Homo sapiens: one gene and its partners. The protein of the gene in region 2 purifies or fractionates together with the protein of the main gene of each other region. This does not show direct contact. Each region holds a gene or a part of one and is shown on either strand. Other genes may lie near its edges.

The links.
Region 1: the proteins of PHB2 (region 2) and NMRAL1 purify together in Homo sapiens (affinity purification with mass spectrometry; 4 studies listed by BioGRID and IntAct, with this or other methods). This does not show direct contact.
Region 3: the proteins of PHB2 (region 2) and MAP1LC3B purify together in Homo sapiens (affinity purification with western blotting; 3 studies listed by BioGRID and IntAct, with this or other methods). This does not show direct contact.

The regions. Positions count from the first base shown.
Region 1 is NC_000016.10:4,464,589-4,471,625, reverse strand, and holds part of NMRAL1 (nmrA-like family domain-containing protein 1), read left to right. Parts: intron 1-210; exon of another isoform or gene 211-312; intron 313-1,927; exon of another isoform or gene 1,928-2,032; coding exon of another isoform or gene 2,033-2,122; intron 2,123-2,160; coding exon 2,161-2,399; intron 2,400-5,223; coding exon 5,224-5,473; intron 5,474-7,037. UniProt on the Homo sapiens protein: Redox sensor protein. Undergoes restructuring and subcellular redistribution in response to changes in intracellular NADPH/NADP(+) levels.
Region 2 is NC_000012.12:6,967,646-6,974,523, reverse strand, and holds the start of PHB2 (prohibitin-2), read left to right. Parts: upstream 1-3,859; 5' UTR 3,860-3,980; coding exon 3,981-4,107; intron 4,108-4,243; coding exon 4,244-4,328; intron 4,329-4,946; coding exon 4,947-5,026; intron 5,027-5,928; coding exon 5,929-6,113; intron 6,114-6,502; coding exon 6,503-6,632; intron 6,633-6,744; coding exon 6,745-6,848; intron 6,849-6,878. Other genes in the region: EMG1 (ribosomal RNA small subunit methyltransferase NEP1), read right to left, coding at 84-185, 3,433-3,600.
Region 3 is NC_000016.10:87,402,336-87,405,311, forward strand, and holds the end of MAP1LC3B (microtubule-associated protein 1 light chain 3 beta), read left to right. Parts: intron 1-587; coding exon 588-762; 3' UTR 763-2,439; downstream 2,440-2,976.

The DNA of each region.
Region 1 (7,037 bases), on a different chromosome or scaffold from region 2:
TTTTTTGGAGACAGGGCCTTACTCTGTTACCCAGGCTGGCGTGCAGTGGTGTGATCACGGCTCACTGCAGCCTCAACCTCCTGGGTTCAGGCTTTCCTCCAGCCTCAGCCTCCCTGGTAGCTGGGACTACAGGCACATGCCACCACGCCCAGCTAATTTTTGGTTTTTTTTTGTAGAGATATGGTTTCACCATGTTGCCCAGGCTGGTCTCAAACTCCTGAGCTCAAGAGATCTGCGTGCCTCAGCCTCCCAAAGTGTCTGGATTACAGGCATGAGCCCCTGGGCCCAGCTGCAACGCGCAAAATCTTAAGGGTACATCTGACCGATGCGCATGCCTGTGTGACTCAAGCTCCATCGAGATCTGAATAAGTTTTTGTATTCCTTTCTGTTAACTATTTTTCTTTGTCTCGTTTTTGAGCAGATCTGAATATGGTTGTGTATCTGAATATGGCTTTATATTCTACTTCAGGAAGAATTCAAATCCCATCAAGATCTGAATATGGTTTTTTCTTTTGTTTTGAGACAGAGTCTCACTGTGTCACCCAGGCTGGAGTGCAGTGGCCCAATCTCGGCTCACTGCAACCTCTGCCACCCTGGTTCAAGCGATTCTCCTGCCTCAGCCTCCCAAGTAGCTGGGATTACAGGCTCCACCATGCCCAGCTAATTTTTTTTTTTTTTTGAGACGGAGTCTTGCTCTGTCGTCCAGGCTGGAGTGCAGTGGCGCGATCTCGGCTCACTGCAAGCTCCACCTCCTGGGTTCATGCCATTCTCCTGCCTCAGTCTCCCGAGTAGCTGGGACTACAGGCGCCCGCCACCACGCCCGGCTAAGTTTTTGTATTTTTAGTAGAGACAGGGTTTCACCGTGTTAGCCAGGATGGTCTCGATCTCCTGACCTCATGATCCGCCCGCCTCGGCCTCCCAAAGTGCTGGGATTACAGTTGTGAGCTACTGCACCCGGCCTCATTTTTTTATTTTTAGTAGAGACGGGGTTTCACCATCTTGGCTAGGCTGGTCTTGAGCTCCTGACCTCGTGATCCACCTGTCTCAGCCTCCCAAAGTGCTAGGATTACAGCCACTGCACCCAGCCTGAATATGGTTTTGTATTCTACTTTTTTTACTTTATTACATCACAAATATTTTTACCTTTATTTTTTTGAGACCAAGTTTCGCTCTTGTTGCCCAGGCTGGAGTGCAATGGCGCGATCTCGGCTCACCGCAACCTCTGCCTCCTGGGTTCAAGCGATTCTCCTGCCTCAGCCTCTCGAGTAGCTGGGATTACAGGCATGTGCCACCACGCCTAGCTAATTTTGTATTTTTAGTAGAGACAGTGGTTTCTCCATGTTGGTCGGGCTGTTCTCAAACTCCCAACTTCAGGTGATCTACCCCCCTCGGCCTCTCAAAGTGCTAGGATTACAGGTGTGAGCCACTGCACCAGGCCCTTTTTTTTTTTTTTTTTTTTTTTTTGAGAGGGAATCTCACTTTGTCACCCAGGCTGGAGTGCAGTGGCGTGATCTGGGCTCACTGCAACCTCCGCCTCCTGTGTTCAAGCGATTCTCCTGCCTTAGCCTCCTGAGTAGCTGTGACTACAGGCGGGTGCCACCACGCCCGGCTAAGTTTGTATTTTTAGCAGAGACAGGGTTTCACTGTGTTAGCCAGGATGGTCTCGGTCTCCTTACCTGGTGATCCACTCGGCCTGGCCTCCCAAAGTGCTGTGATTACAGGCGTGAGCCACCATGCCTGGCCTTTTTTTTTTTTTTTTAATACAGATTCTCGCTGTGTCACCCAGGCTGTGGTGCAGTGGCGCAATCTCAGCTCACTGCAACCTCCGCCTCCTGGGTTCCAGCAATTCTCGTGCCTCAGCCTCCTGAGTAGCTGGGAGTACAGGCATGTGCCTTCACACCCAGCTAATTTTTGTATTTTTTGATAGAGGCGGGGTTTCACCAAGCCAAGATCGTGCCACTGCACTTCAGCCTGGGTGATAGAGTGAGACTCCATCTCAAAAAAATAAAATAAAGAAAATAAAAATACCTGAATGAGAATCGTCGTTGAGAAGGTTTCCTGGATGCTCCTTGCTGTGGTGGAGCACTCCCTTCGGGGTTTCGCCCTTCAGTGGGACTTTCAGGTAGGTCTGACCTGAGAGGTCTTTTTGATTCTTTGTAGGTGCCCAGGGTGGCTCCGTGGCCCGCACACTCCTGGAAGATGGGACATTCAAGGTTCGAGTGGTGACCCGAAACCCTAGGAAGAAGGCAGCAAAGGAGCTGAGGCTGCAAGGTGCAGAAGTAGTGCAGGGAGACCAAGATGACCAGGTCATCATGGAGCTGGCCCTGAATGGGGCTTACGCCACCTTCATCGTGACCAATTACTGGGAGAGCTGCAGCCAGGAGCAGGAGGTCAAGCAGGTGAGGGCAGGCAGGAGCTGCAGGGAGGCCCGGCCAGGCTAGGAGCAGAGCGCCTGGGAGGAGCTCCGACTCTGCAGGGAGGTTGGAGCACTGCAGGCCTTTCCCTCTTCTTCATGCCTCTGCCTGCTCTAGGCTGTGAAGCAGGTGGACGCTGTTGCTTTCTCATCCAATTACTTTTTTTTTGTTTGTTTGAGGCCGTCTCAGTCTCCGTGAGCAACCACGCCTGGCCTGTTCGTTTGTTTTTTTTTTTTTTAATCAAAAATGTTAGAAGTTTTTTTTAAAAAGTAATTTCCACTTTTATTTTAGATTCAGGGGTACATGCACAGGTTTGTTACATTGGTATATTGAGTGATGCTGAGGTCTGGGGTGTGACTGGACCTGTCACCCAGGTAGTGGGCACAGTACCCAGTAGGTAGGTTTTCAACCCTTGCCTCCCTCCCTCCCGTGGTTCCCAGTGTCTGTTGTTGCCTTCATGTCCACGTGTACCCATCCAAACTTGTTATTAGCCTTGACCCTTTCTTCAATTATGGTCTTACCTAGAAGCCCATTATATAGAGCAGACAAAGACAACTTCTCTGATTAACGCAGATCTTTTTTTTTTTTTTTTTTTTGAGACTGAGTCTTGCTCTGTCGCCCAGGCCGGAGTGCAGTGGGGTGATCTCGGCTCACTGCAACCTCTGCCTCCCAGATTCAAGCAATTCTTCTGCCTCAGCCTCCCGAGTAGCTGGGATTATAGGTGTGTACCAGCACACCCAACTAATTTTTGTATTTTTAGTAGAGGCGGGGTTTCACCATGTTGGCCAGGCTGGTCTTGAACTCCTGACCTCAGGTGATCCGCCCACCTCGGCCTCCCAAAGTGCTGGGATTACAGGCGTAAGCCACATGCCCGGCCCTGAGCTGATCTTATTTCTTTCTTTATTTTTTGAGGCCGAGTTTCGCTTTTGTTGCCCAGGCTGGCATGCAATGGCGCAATCTTGGCTCACCGCAACCTCCGCCTCCTGGGTTCAAGTTATTCTCCTGCCCCAGCCTCCCGAATAGCTGAGATTACATGCATGCGTCACCATGCCCTGGTAATTTTTTTGTATTTTTAGTACAGACGGGGTTTCTCCATGTTGGTCAAGCTGGTCTCTAACTCCCGGCCTCAGGCGATCCGCCTGCCTCGGCCTCCCAAAGTGCTGGGACTGCGGGCATGAGCCACTGCGCCCAGCCCAGCAGATCTTATTTCTAATCCTGATGATTCCCTGTGGGCTTCCTGGTACTGTCACGAAAAAGGACCACAATCCACGTGGCTTAAAACCATAGAAATCAGCTGGGCACAGTGGCTCATGCTTGTAATCCCCACACTTTGGGAGGCCGAGGCGGGCAGATCACTTGAAGTCAGGAGTTTGAGACCATCCTGGCCAACACAGTGAAACCCTGTCTCTACTAAAAATACAAAAATTAGCTGGGCATGGTGGTGGGCGCCTGTAATCCCAGCTACTCAGGAGGCTGAGGCAGGAGAATTGCTTGAACCCAAGAGGCGGAGGTTGCAGTGAGCCAAGATTGTGCCACTGCACTCCGGCCTGAGCGACAGAGCTAGACTCTGTCTCAAAAACAAAAACAAAAACCACAGAAATCGATTCTCTGATATTCTAGAAGCTAGAAGTTCAAAATCAAGGTGTCAGCAATGTCACCCTCTCTCCAGAGTCTTGGAGGCCAGGCGTGGTAGTTTATGCTTGTAATCCCAGCACTTTGGGAGGCTGAGGTGGGCAGATCACTTAAGGTCAGGAGTTCAAGACCAGCCTGGCCAACACAGCAAAACCCTGTCTCTACAAAAAATACAAAAATTAGCCAGGCATGGTGGCGGGCACCTGTAGTCCCAGCGACTCAGGAGGGTGAGGCAGGAGAATTGCTTGAATCCAGGAAGCGGAGGCTGCAGTGAGCAGAGATCACGCCACTGCACTCCTGCCTGGGTGACAGAGTGAGAGTCCATCTTAAAAAACAAAACAAAACAAGGGGTTTGAGGGAAATCCTTCTTCACTGTTTCTGGCTTCTCATGGCTCCAGGTGTTCCTGGGCTTGTGGCCACAAAGCTCCAATCTCCGCTTCCCTCTTCGCATGGCCTTCTCCAGGTGTTGTCTCTTCTCCCGTCTCTTATAAGTACCCTGGTTACTGGATTTAGCGCCTATCTAGTTAGTGCAGGATGTTCCCATCTCAAGATCCTTCACGTAATTACATCTGCCAAGACCCTTTTTCCGAATAAGGTCACATTCACAGTTTTCAGGAATGAGGATGCGGCATATCTTTTTGGAGGCCACCGTCCGAATCTCTGCGTCACCTCATGCAGTAGGTAGTGTTGTCATCTGCATTTTACCAGCGAGGTCAGGATGGTGCCATCACTTCTCTGGGGTCACACTGCTCGTACATGGCAGAGCCTGATTTGAACCTAGGCAGCTGTGGTGCCTCTGTATAGCCTCCCAGGGCTCTCCAAGGAAGATGGCTGAGCTCCATGGGCAGGGTGTTCTCACACCAGCAGAGATGGGACGTGTGCATTCTCCTTTAGACCTCCATGCAGGCCGTCCCCCTGCAGCCGACCTGCCCCCCCGTCCTATGTTGCACATGGTGGGCCAGAGTCAGTGGCTGGTAGAAGGCTTCCGGGGCTGTGTTTACGGGCGTGGTGTCATGTGTGAACATCATTCCAGGAGAGGGGGCCTCCTCAAGGGTAAGTGGGGTCTAGATGTTAACCTCGCAGATGGTGGCCGCTCCGGGATTAGAATGCTGGGGCTGTGACCAGGGACAGACATCCTTCTTCTGAGCCTTGTGATCTCTCCTTCCCTGCCCTCCAGGGGAAGCTGCTCGCTGATCTGGCCAGGCGCCTGGGCCTCCACTATGTGGTCTACAGCGGCCTGGAGAACATCAAGAAGCTGACGGCAGGGAGATTGGCCGCCGCGCACTTTGACGGCAAAGGGGAGGTGGAGGAATATTTCCGGGACATTGGCGTTCCCATGACCAGTGTGCGGCTGCCCTGCTATTTTGAGAACCTCCTCTCCCACTTCTTGCCCCAGAAAGCCCCAGACGGAAAGAGCTACTTGCTGAGTAAGTGCCCTTTCTCGCACACGGTGAGGCAGAGCTCTCACCCTGTAAAGCCGTTGGTGTAACAGACCGCGGGCCGCTGTCACGTGGTGCCAGGTTCAAGCCGTGGCTCCCTCACGTTAGGCCCAGGACTGAGCACATCCTGTCAGCTTGCGGGGCCTCAGCTTCCTGTTCTGTGAGATGGGCTCTATACCAATGTTTGCAGGGGTGGCAAGATCTGCTGAGATGGTGGTGACACGATATTCGCTTGGTCCATTGGAAGGCTTTACAGAGAGGACCTAGTGATTGTCAGTTCTCCTTCAAAGATGAGGAGGGCCGGGCGCTGTGGCTTATGCCTGTAGTCCCAGCACTTTGGGAGGCTGAGGCGGGGAGACCAGCCTGGCCAACATGGTGAAACCCCATCTCTACTAAAAATACAAAAATTAGCTGGGCGTGGTGCCACCCACCTGTACTGGCAGCTACTAGGGAGGCTGAGGCAGGGGAATCGCTTGAACCCAGGAGGTGGAGGTTGCAGTGAGCTGAGATTGTGCCACTGCACTCTAGCCTAGGCGACAAGAGCAACACTCCGTCTCAAAACAAACAAAACAAAACAAAACAAAACAAAAAAACCAAAGACGAGGAGAGGATTTGGAAAATGAAGTTCAGTTGCAGATTTCACAAACTAGGAAAGCTCTTTCTTCTCAGTGCCCATTGGGGCTATAAACAGGTTAGGTGCACTGGCCCTGGCTGGGAACAAGGCTCACCCAACCTGTGTCCTGCTGGTCACTCAGTGATCAGGGCAGGAGGGGTTGGTGCCTCTGGCTGGCCACTCCTTACCCTCTGGTTGAATGCCAGGTCACCCTCGCATAAGGGCCCAGCCCATGGGAGTCCTGCTCACCTGGCGGGCCAAGTCTGGTGGTAACAGTAGCCCTTTGGTACCACCATTTATTATAGTTTGCAAAGCTGGCCAGGCGCAGTGGCTTACGCCTGTAATCCCAGCACTTTGGGAAGCCGAGGTGGGCAGACCACCAGTTCAGGAGTTTGAGACCAGCCTGGCCAGCATGGTGTGAAACCCCATCTCTACTAAAAATACAAAAATTAGCCAGCCTGGCGTGGTGGTGCACGCCTGTAATCCCAGCTACTCGGGAGGCTGAGGCAGAAGAATCGCTTGAACCCAGGAGGCAGAGGTTGCAGTGAGCCGAGATCGTGGCACTGCACTCCAGCCTGGGTGACAGAGCAAGACCCCGTCTCAAAAAAAAAAGGCCGGGCACGGTGGCTTACGCCTGTAATCCCAGCACTTTGGGAGGCCGAGGAGGGCGGATCACGAGGTTCAGGAGATCGAGACCATCATGGCTAACTTGGTGAAACCCCTGTCTCTACTAAAAATACAAAAACTTAGCCGGGTGTGGCGGCAGGCGCCTGTAGTCCCAGCTACTCGGGAGGCTGAGGCAGGAGAATGGTGTGAACCCGGGAGGTGGAGCTTGTGGTGAGCCAAGATTGCGCCACTGCACTCCAGCCTGGGCGACAGAGCGAGACTCCATCTCAAAAAAAAAAAAAAAAAAAAACCTGCAGTCAGGGATATCTCCTG
Region 2 (6,878 bases):
TAAGGCTGAAGAGAGGCAGCACTCAGCTGCCAACCCTTCCATACAGAGGCTCAAAGGGTTGTGAGCACTGTCCCTGGAGTTACCTGGTGGGTGATATCTGGCCGCGCTTCCCCAGGGTCCCGTCCATTCTTCAACAATATAGACTTGTGCTTGTCACAGTTGAGTAGCTCATATGTCTTCCCTACCTGAAGAACAGGGAACATGACGAGAGAACAGCATAAGCTTCTGTTACCTAGCCCCGTGGTTCTTCAAGTGTGGTCCCCAAACTACCAGCAGCAGCTGCACCTGGAAACTTGTTAGGCAAATTCTCAGGCCCACCCTAGACCTACTAAACCAGGAACACTGGGGGTGGAGCCCAGCAAGCCCTTCGGGGGATTACTGTGCAGCCTTATTTGCACTCCCCAGTGAATGGTCTGAGAGGGAAACAGGAGGAAGGGCACAACCTGTGACTTCACATTATCTACTAATACACTGGATTTAATTAAAAAACCTGTGGCTGTTAGGCAAGGCCAATGAGACATCCTGGAACTAGGCAGGAGTTAGTAGTTAGCAAGGCTGAATGCTGTGTTTATTACAGGAGCAGTAAGTAGGTACTGTGCAAAATATCGAGTCACCACCCTCAGTTTGCGTACACCAAACATGCACTAAGTGAAGAGCTGCAAATCTGAACAAGAAATGTGAAGGCCGGGCGTGGTGGCTCACGCCTGTAATCCCAGCACTTTGGGAGGCCGAGGCGGGCAGATCACAAGGTCAGGAGATTGAGACCATCGTGGCTAACACGGTGAAACCCCATCTCTACTAAAAATATAAAAAATTAGCCGGGCATGGTGGCAGGCGCCTGTAGTCCCAGCTACTTGGGAGGCAGAGGCAGGAGAATGGCATGAACCCAGGAGGCGGAGCTTGCAGCGCCACTGCACTCCAGCCCGGGCAACAGAGCGAGACTCCATCTCAAAAAAAAGAAATGTGAAAACTAATGATGCAGGAGGCAGTTTAATCAAAGAAAACTCTCAGAAGTAAAAGGAAGAGGGGTTATTCCCAGTTTTAAGACGGGCATGGGGGCAGATGCAGTGGCTCACGGCTGTAATCCCAGCACTCTGGGAGGCCAAGGCAGGCAAATCACTTAAGGTCAGGAGTTCAAGACCAGCCTGGGCAACATGGCGAAACCCCATCTCTACTAAAAATACAAAAATTAGCTGGGCATGGTGGCACATGCCTGTAGTCCTAGCTACTTGGGAGGCTAAGGTGGGAGGATGGCTTGAGCCCAGGAGACAGAGATTGCAGTGAGCCAAGACTGTACCACTGCACTCCAGCAAGACCCTGTCTCAAAAAAAAGAAAAAAGAAAGACTGGCATGAGCAAAGGTACAGATGGAATCAAGACAAAGTAGCCAGGTGTGGTGGCTTATGCCTGTGATCCCAACACTTTAGGAGGCCGAGGTGGAAGGATCACTTGAGCCCAGGAATTTGAGACCGGCCTGGGCAACACGGTGGGACCCTGTCTCACAAAAAAAAAAAAAAAAATTAGCCAGGCGCAGTGCCATTTGCTGGCAGTCCCAGTTACTCAGGAGGATGAGGTGGGAGGACTGCTTGAGCCAGGGAAGTAGAGGCTGCAGTGAACCATCACACCACTGCACTCTGTTGCCCAGGCAACAGAGCAAGACCCTATCTCAAAAAAGAAACAAAAAAGAAAAAGTGGAAACGAAGAAAGGAAATTTTGAGGAAAATTGGGAGCTGAGACACTAAAGGGCAGTGATTATATATGAAGCTGCTTTGTAAACCACAGAATCCTAATGTATCAAGCACAAAGCCAAAAATAATTCTGGAGTAAGCAGGGCAGGATGGGAATGACTGACAGACACTATCCTAACAACTCTCTGTACACTGGAAAAGACATCAGAAGTTTGATGTTAAAGAAGTGGACTACATCTGTAGCAGCTAAAAGAAATAATTCCAAGTTGCAATTTGGAGTCCCAAGGAGCATTAGGGTGGTCAGTAAAAAGTCTAAAAACAAACTGTTATATACAAATACAAGTTTTGGAAGGTTAAGTTTTTATGTATCACTGGAATGTATATGTCTAGCAACATTCTTGAGATATATGGCTCCAAAAAGTCTGCGAAAAAAGGGATGTAGATTTTGAAATTGAATAGTTGAAGTAATGTCACAGAGAGCACAAAGAACAAATGACCAAGAACTAAGTCCATGAGACACCCTTAGTTATAGAAGAAAAAAACCTTCTTGAATGAATAATACAGTTTCAACCCATTAGTAGGATATAATCATGTTTTCTATTCTTTTAATAGATTACAGGCGCAGGCCTGTAATCCCAGCTACTCTGGAGGCTGAGGCAGGAGAATCGATTGAACCCGGGAGGCGGAGGCTGCAGTGAGCCAAGATCGTGCCACTGCACTCCAGCCTGGTAGAGACTGAGACTCCATCTCAAAAAAAAAAAAAAAAAAAAGTGTATTTAGAACGAAGATTAAAATCCTGGCCTGACTTCTAAACCAATGCGATTTCTTCTGGGCCTATTCAATTAGTTCTAACGGGTAAGAGAAAGGAGGAGGAAGAACACTGCCCAAGGCTTTAAGATAGAGAACTGCTGGTTCTATTACATGTGGGGAAAGAGATGAATGATAGATAAAAATGCAGATGTAAAAGTTTTAAATAATAACCAGGTCTGGACAGTGTATCATAGGTGGATATTAGAGAGAGGTGACTATGGATACTAATGAATTGAAACACGAAGCCCTTACAAAAAGTGTGGGCAGACTAGGCTACATAACTACGTTTCTCATCTGCCCAGTAACTTGTCTTGGGATGTGGAATGACGCAAGGAACGAAACTTTCCTCTGCTTAGACTACTATACCACAGAATCCTGGTAAACCAATTGGAAGCAAGGAGGTGAGGGCTAGAATATCATTCAAAAAGAGCAAAAGAAAATGAGTACTACCGGCCGGGCACAGTGGCTCACGCCTCTAATCCCAACACTTTGGGAGGCCGAGGCGGGCGGATCACTTGAGGTCAGGAGTTCGAGACCAGCGTGGCCAACATGGTGAAACCCCATCTGAACTAAAAATACAAAAAAATTAGCCGGGCGTGGTGGCACCTGCCTGTAGTCCCAGCTACTCCAGAGGCTGAGTCAGGAGAACTGTTTGAAGGCGGGAGGCAGAAGTTGCAGTGAGCCGAGGTCGCGCAACTGCACTCCAGCCTGGGCGACAGAGCGAGACTCCGTCTCAAAAAAAAAAAAAAAAAGAAAGAAAAATGAGTACTACCATCCCAGGATGTCAAATCAACGCAAAGCCAACCAAGCCACCTTCCTTCAAAAGCATCTTTCACCCCTCTCTGCTTTCTACATCCACTCTGGGCCCCTTACCCTCATTCCACGGAGTCCCAACCTATCGATTTACTACTTCTCCACTTCCTGTCCCAAACTACCTTGACTGTCTCCAGACTGGCCCCTTCCAGCACCACAATAAGCCTACGGCCTCCGATCTTGTTTCCTGCCCCTAGTCGGGGCCGCTTGGGTGGCAGAGCATCCCAGTCCTGTGCCTGCTCCCCACCGCTTCGTTCACGAGGCTTGAATCCATCACTGGGCGCGGCCATCTTGCAACAATACCGGAAGTTGCGCTAACGCTCTTAAATAAGAACAGCGCGGCTTCTAATCACAAATTTCCTTCCGGCTGCCATTTTGAAAGTGGGCCAGGAAATGGAGATGACTTGCTGTCTTGCGCTGCCCTCCCTGGGAGGGCAGCCTTCCAGAAAGGGGCGGGACTTCCGTATGCGCGATTCCTGTGCGCGAAGTTCGGGTCCGTAGTGGGCTAAGGGGGAGGGTTTCAAAGGGAGCGCACTTCCGCTGCCCTTTCTTTCGCCAGCCTTACGGGCCCGAACCCTCGTGTGAAGGGTGCAGTACCTAAGCCGGAGCGGGGTAGAGGCGGGCCGGCACCCCCTTCTGACCTCCAGTGCCGCCGGCCTCAAGATCAGACATGGCCCAGAACTTGAAGGACTTGGCGGGACGGCTGCCCGCCGGGCCCCGGGGCATGGGCACGGCCCTGAAGCTGTTGCTGGGGGCCGGCGCCGTGGCCTACGGTGTGCGCGAATCTGTGTTCACCGGTGAGCAACCTCCGCCTGCTCGCCGGACGCTTCCAGTCCCTCCCCCAAACCCCTTGCCCTGTCCCCGCGCCCCTCCACGGGCCTAGCATTTCCTCTGAGCAGCGGCCTGGCCTGATCACCACCCATCTCCCCACAGTGGAAGGCGGGCACAGAGCCATCTTCTTCAATCGGATCGGTGGAGTGCAGCAGGACACTATCCTGGCCGAGGGCCTTCACTTCAGGTAATGGCGGGCAGAGCCTGCTGACCCTGACCTTTCACCCTTGACGCCGACCCAGCAGTGGCTATAGTCGGACGTGCAACAGGATTCAACGCTGCTCTTTTCCCACCCTCCTCATCCCTGCCCCTAGGATAGTGGGTGCTGCGAGAACCTCCAGCAGCATACAAACTGTTGTTTTCCAGAGGGACAAGAGAATCTCTCCTTGTCTGTGGTCGTGGAGAGGAGCAGGCCAAAAAACGCGTGGTGAGGGGAAACCGGGCAAGGCTAGTGAAACTGCGGCCTTTTCTTTTTTTTTTTTTGGAGAGGGAGTCTTGCTCTGTCGCCCAGGCTGGAGTGCAGTGGCGCGATCTCGGCTCACTGCAACCTCCGCCTCCTGATTTCAAGCGATTCTCCTGCCTCAGCCTCACGAGTAGCTGGGATTACAGGCGCCCGCCACCACGCCCGGCTAATTTTTGTATTTTAGTAGAGACGGGGTTTCACTATGTAGATCAAGCTGGTCTCGAACTCCTGACCTCAAATGATCCGCCCGCCTCGGCCTCCCAAAGTGCTGGGATTACAGGCGTGAGCCACCGCGCCCGGCCGAAACTGTGGCCTCTTAATACCTATCCCTGTCCTCTCCAGGATCCCTTGGTTCCAGTACCCCATTATCTATGACATTCGGGCCAGACCTCGAAAAATCTCCTCCCCTACAGGCTCCAAAGGTAGGTCTGAGCACTTGGTAATCACATGGCAGGTGGGATGATCAAGGTAGCTGGCAAGAAACCCCAGGGGAATATGGTAGTGTCAGGCCTTTAGGCCTCTTTCCACATCTGCAAGAGCTGTAACAAAAATACCTGCCTCCTGGGGTCAAAGCAGCAAATTCTGAACACACTGTGTTTGCGTGCTTTTTACTGTCTCCTCCCTGACGTGTATTCAATAAGAGTATTGTTTGTCCCTCGTCTTGTTCACTGCCTAGATCAAAGCTTTGTTTTAAAGCCTTTTTTTTCTAACTGCTTGACTTACTATATCTACAGTTACATCCACTAGTACACTCTGTTCTGGAGAAGTTTGTCCCTAAGCTTGACTAGTTCACCTGTTCTCTCCTTCTAGACCATACATAAAAGCCGTGCCTTTGAGTTCCCCAGACCTCTTCCTCCTCCCCACCCACGCACACATATACACCCTGGGTCAGGTAGCTCACCTGTAACCTGTAATGTACTTCTTTGTGCTATACCTAGTGCAGGTCGCTTATTCATTTACTAGACTGGGCCCTGGGAATAAAAGATTCATTAAACACAATTCTTGTCCCCCAAGTCCTTACAGGAGACATGATTACGGTACAGCACGAAAGCGCCCACGTTAGAGGTTGCACAGAGTACAGAGGGGGAAAGAGTAGTCAGCTCTGCTGGTGACGGGGTTTGCAGTTCAAGGCTTCACAGTGGGTGAGGGTGCATTTCAGCTGTGCTGCGTCTTGTCTTCCTTGTCAGCCTGATTAACTCTCCTCCCCCCAGGGTAGTGCCAGGCTGTACACCATTGCACAGGGCATACAGGGAGGAACATGAAGGAGAAAATGCTTGGGAAAGGGTGTTTGGCCTTGACCAGCCACTGCTGACCTCAATCTCAGACCTACAGATGGTGAATATCTCCCTGCGAGTGTTGTCTCGACCCAATGCTCAGGAGCTTCCTAGCATGTACCAGCGCCTAGGGCTGGACTACGAGGAACGAGTGTTGCCGTCCATTGTCAACGAGGTGCTCAAGAGTGTGGTGGCCAAGTTCAATGCCTCACAGCTGATCACCCAGCGGGCCCAGGTCTGACTCCCACCACCATCTGCGTGGTGTCAGCCTTTCCTTCCTAGGCCCAGAGTATTGGGAATTAGGAAAGGCAGCTTATTAGAAAAGCATTGTCACCCTAGTGCCATTTCCACCTAAAAGCTGTGCTAATTGCCACTGTGAAATAAGGAGAGCCAGCATTAGAACTCGATAGCACTCGGTGTTAGGAAGCACAGAGGAAAATGGCCAAGTCTTGGCTTTTCCTGCACCTCTTCGAGCAGAGAGGCTTATGTTACAGGTTTGCCTGACAGGAAGCTAAGGCAGTGCATGTTGTATTGAGAGTGAAGGGTTAGGGGTCGCAACCTTCCTTTCAGCTCCCCAGTCCCCTCAAACCACCCCTCCCTTCCCCTCTTCACCCCTGCCCTCAGGTATCCCTGTTGATCCGCCGGGAGCTGACAGAGAGGGCCAAGGACTTCAGCCTCATCCTGGATGATGTGGCCATCACAGAGCTGAGCTTTAGCCGAGAGTACACAGCTGCTGTAGAAGCCAAACAAGTGGGTGAGTCGCAAGAGCCGTGGGGTGAGGGCTTCTGAGATGCAGGAGGAGGAAAGACTCCATGGGTGGGGCTCCTGACCCAGGACAGGGTCTCCCTGACTCTCTCCCACCACAGCCCAGCAGGAGGCCCAGCGGGCCCAATTCTTGGTAGAAAAAGCAAAGCAGGAACAGCGGCAGAAAATTGTGCAGGCCGAGGGTGAGGCCGAGGCTGCCAAGATGATATCCTTCTGCTGGAGAGATCTCAGCCCA
Region 3 (2,976 bases), on a different chromosome or scaffold from region 2:
TTATGAAACTTACAGTTAAATCTTTAGTTCTGGTTAAAATCTTTAAAAAATATTTTTCAGCTGAATTCAGTTCTGATTCAGTTATGATTAAAACAATTTCAACTTAAACTATAAAATGTTTCTTTTTTTGAGGTTTTATATTACTTGCTAGACTGCAGAGCCCGTTTCTTTCATCATAACATCGTTTAGATGTTTCCTGTTTAAAATCAGTGTTACAAGTTATTAAGGTATTGTACAGCAAAGCTAGTTAAAGAGAATGTAGACTCTGTGAGTGGCAGTAAATGGCACAGGCTTAGATCTTAGAATAGTTCAGAAACTGTATTTGAACTGCTTTCTTATATTAGACAGTTTAACAGCTGTTCAGACAGTATACTAGTTTAAAATCAGCCTAATATGTAATCTTTCAGTGATTATAGCTCATGTCAATATAATCAAAGGAAGTGTCCTGTGCTTTATGAGAAGTATTGGATTCAAGAGCATTTAGAACATTTTTATATTTTACCGATCAGAGTGGGTGATATTTTAACACATGCTTCATCCTTCTTGTATTGTTGTCAATATTTCTTCACGTTGTTTTCTTTCAATAGAAGGCGCTTACAGCTCAATGCTAATCAGGCCTTCTTCCTGTTGGTGAACGGACACAGCATGGTCAGCGTCTCCACACCAATCTCAGAGGTGTATGAGAGTGAGAAAGATGAAGATGGATTCCTGTACATGGTCTATGCCTCCCAGGAGACGTTCGGGATGAAATTGTCAGTGTAAAACCAGAAAAAATGCAGCTCTTCTAGAATTGTTTAAACCCTTACCAAGGAAAAAAAAGGGATGTTACCAACTGAGATCGATCAGTTCATCCAATCACAGATCATGAAACAGTAGTGTTCCCACCTAGGAGTGTTAGGAAGTTGTGTTTGTGTTTCAAGCAGAAAAACTGAGCTCCAAGTGAGCACATTCAGCTTTGGAAACTATATTATTTAATGTAGGCTAGCTTGTTTTCAAATTTTAAAAGTTTAAAAATAAAATACTTTGCATTCTAAGTTGCCAATAAAATAGACCTTCAAGTTATTTTAATGCTCTTTTCTCACTAATAGGAACTTGTAATTCCAGCAGTAATTTAAAGGCTTTCAGAGAGACCCTGAGTCTTCTCTTCAGGTTCACAAAACCCGCCGCCTTTTTGGGTAGAAGTTTTCTACTCAGCTAGAGAGATCTCCCTAAGAGGATCTTTAGGCCTGAGTTGTGAAGCGCAACCCCCGCAAAACGCATTTGCCATCACAGTTGGCACAAACGCAGGGTAAACGGGCTGTGTGAGAAAACGGCCCTGACTGTAAACTGCTGAAGGTCCCTGACTCCTAAGAGAACCACACCCAAAGTCCTCACTCTTGCAGGGGTAGACATTTCTGGTTTGGTTTGTTCTCTAGATAGTTACACACATAAAGACACCACTCAAAAGGAAACTTGAATAATTTATAATTTTGATCGAGTTTCTTAAAAGACCCTGGAGAAAGAGTGGCATTTCTTCTGTTTCAGGTTTTGTCTGAGTTCAAACTAGTGCCTGTGTTGTTACGGAAAGCAGCAGTGTACCAGTGTCACTCTGGAGTACAGCGGGAGAAACACAAAATAGTATAACTGAAAACATTAACATTCAGACACACTCCCTTCTGCCTTCCGGCTTAAAGCTGTGGATGATCCACGTTTTTGTTTTTTTAATGTTAAATGTGTAACTCAGTATTACTGAAAAGGTACCCACATTTTGAATAGTAGTTATCACTCTTAGGTCAGACAGCCATCAGAATTCTCCCACACCAAGTGCATGTCAGTTGTGGAGAAAACATAGCAAAAAGAGCCGTACGCTCTTTACAGATACTAATGTCAAGAGTTAAACCTCCTCAGGTTCAACCTGTGATAAAAGACTAGTGCTTCCCAGTACTTGCATGGGGTTCACTATTTATAGTTTTCTTGGGAGTATCACAGGAAAATCACAATTACACCACTTTAGACCCTATGTGTAGCAGGTCACAACTTACCCTTGTGTGTTTAGATGTGTATGAAATACCTGTATACGTTAGTGAAAGCTGTTTACTGTAACGGGGAAAACCAGATTCTTTGCATCTGGGCCCTCTACTGATTGTTAAAGGAGTTCCTGTCACCTGCTCCCCCCACCCCCGCATGCGTCTGTCCACTTGGCTAACTTTTAATATGTGTATTTTTACATTATGTATATTCTTAACTGGACTGTCTCGTTTAGACTGTATACATCATATCTGACATTATTGTAACTACCGTGTGATCAGTAAGATTCCTGTAAGAAATACTGCTTTTTAAGAAAAAAAATAACATGCTGAGGGGTGACCTATATCCCATGTGAGTGGTCACTTTATTTATAGGATCTTTAAAACATTTTTAATGAACTAAGTTGAATAAAGGCACAATTAAAAACTGTCATCAAAGCCCAGTTTAATGGGATTCCGTATTTGAGACTTGGATCCCACACTGTTTGTACTTTCCAAAGCCAAGCGGGTCCTTGTATTTCCAAGGAGGGGCATCCAGGCTGGTCCTCTCGTGCAGAGGGGGCACTCACGTGGATGAGCATTGCCCTCCGAGGGCCTCTGCCTTGTCAAGGGCACCCTCCACCTTGGCCAAGGCCCTGCCACCAGGTCTGGCCTTTACAAAGCCAAGTCCTCTTGAGAACTCACGTGCCACGGGCTATCAGGATGGATGCGAATTGACCTACATGTTTTGTGGGACTATAACACCCAACAACCTACTGCTGTAAACCACCCACCACCATAAGTATTTATTAGGTATGTGTGTGTGGTCGAGAAAGTGTACCCTTGGGGGACCCAGTGGGGAGCTGCTGGCATCGTGTACAGATGCAGCACACACACACTTCAGCACTCAGACCAGACAAAAAGTGGCCAACCTCATCATCTAGGGAACTCTGAGCCCAGCTCCCGTTTAAGTAGGCACCTAAAAGTCTGT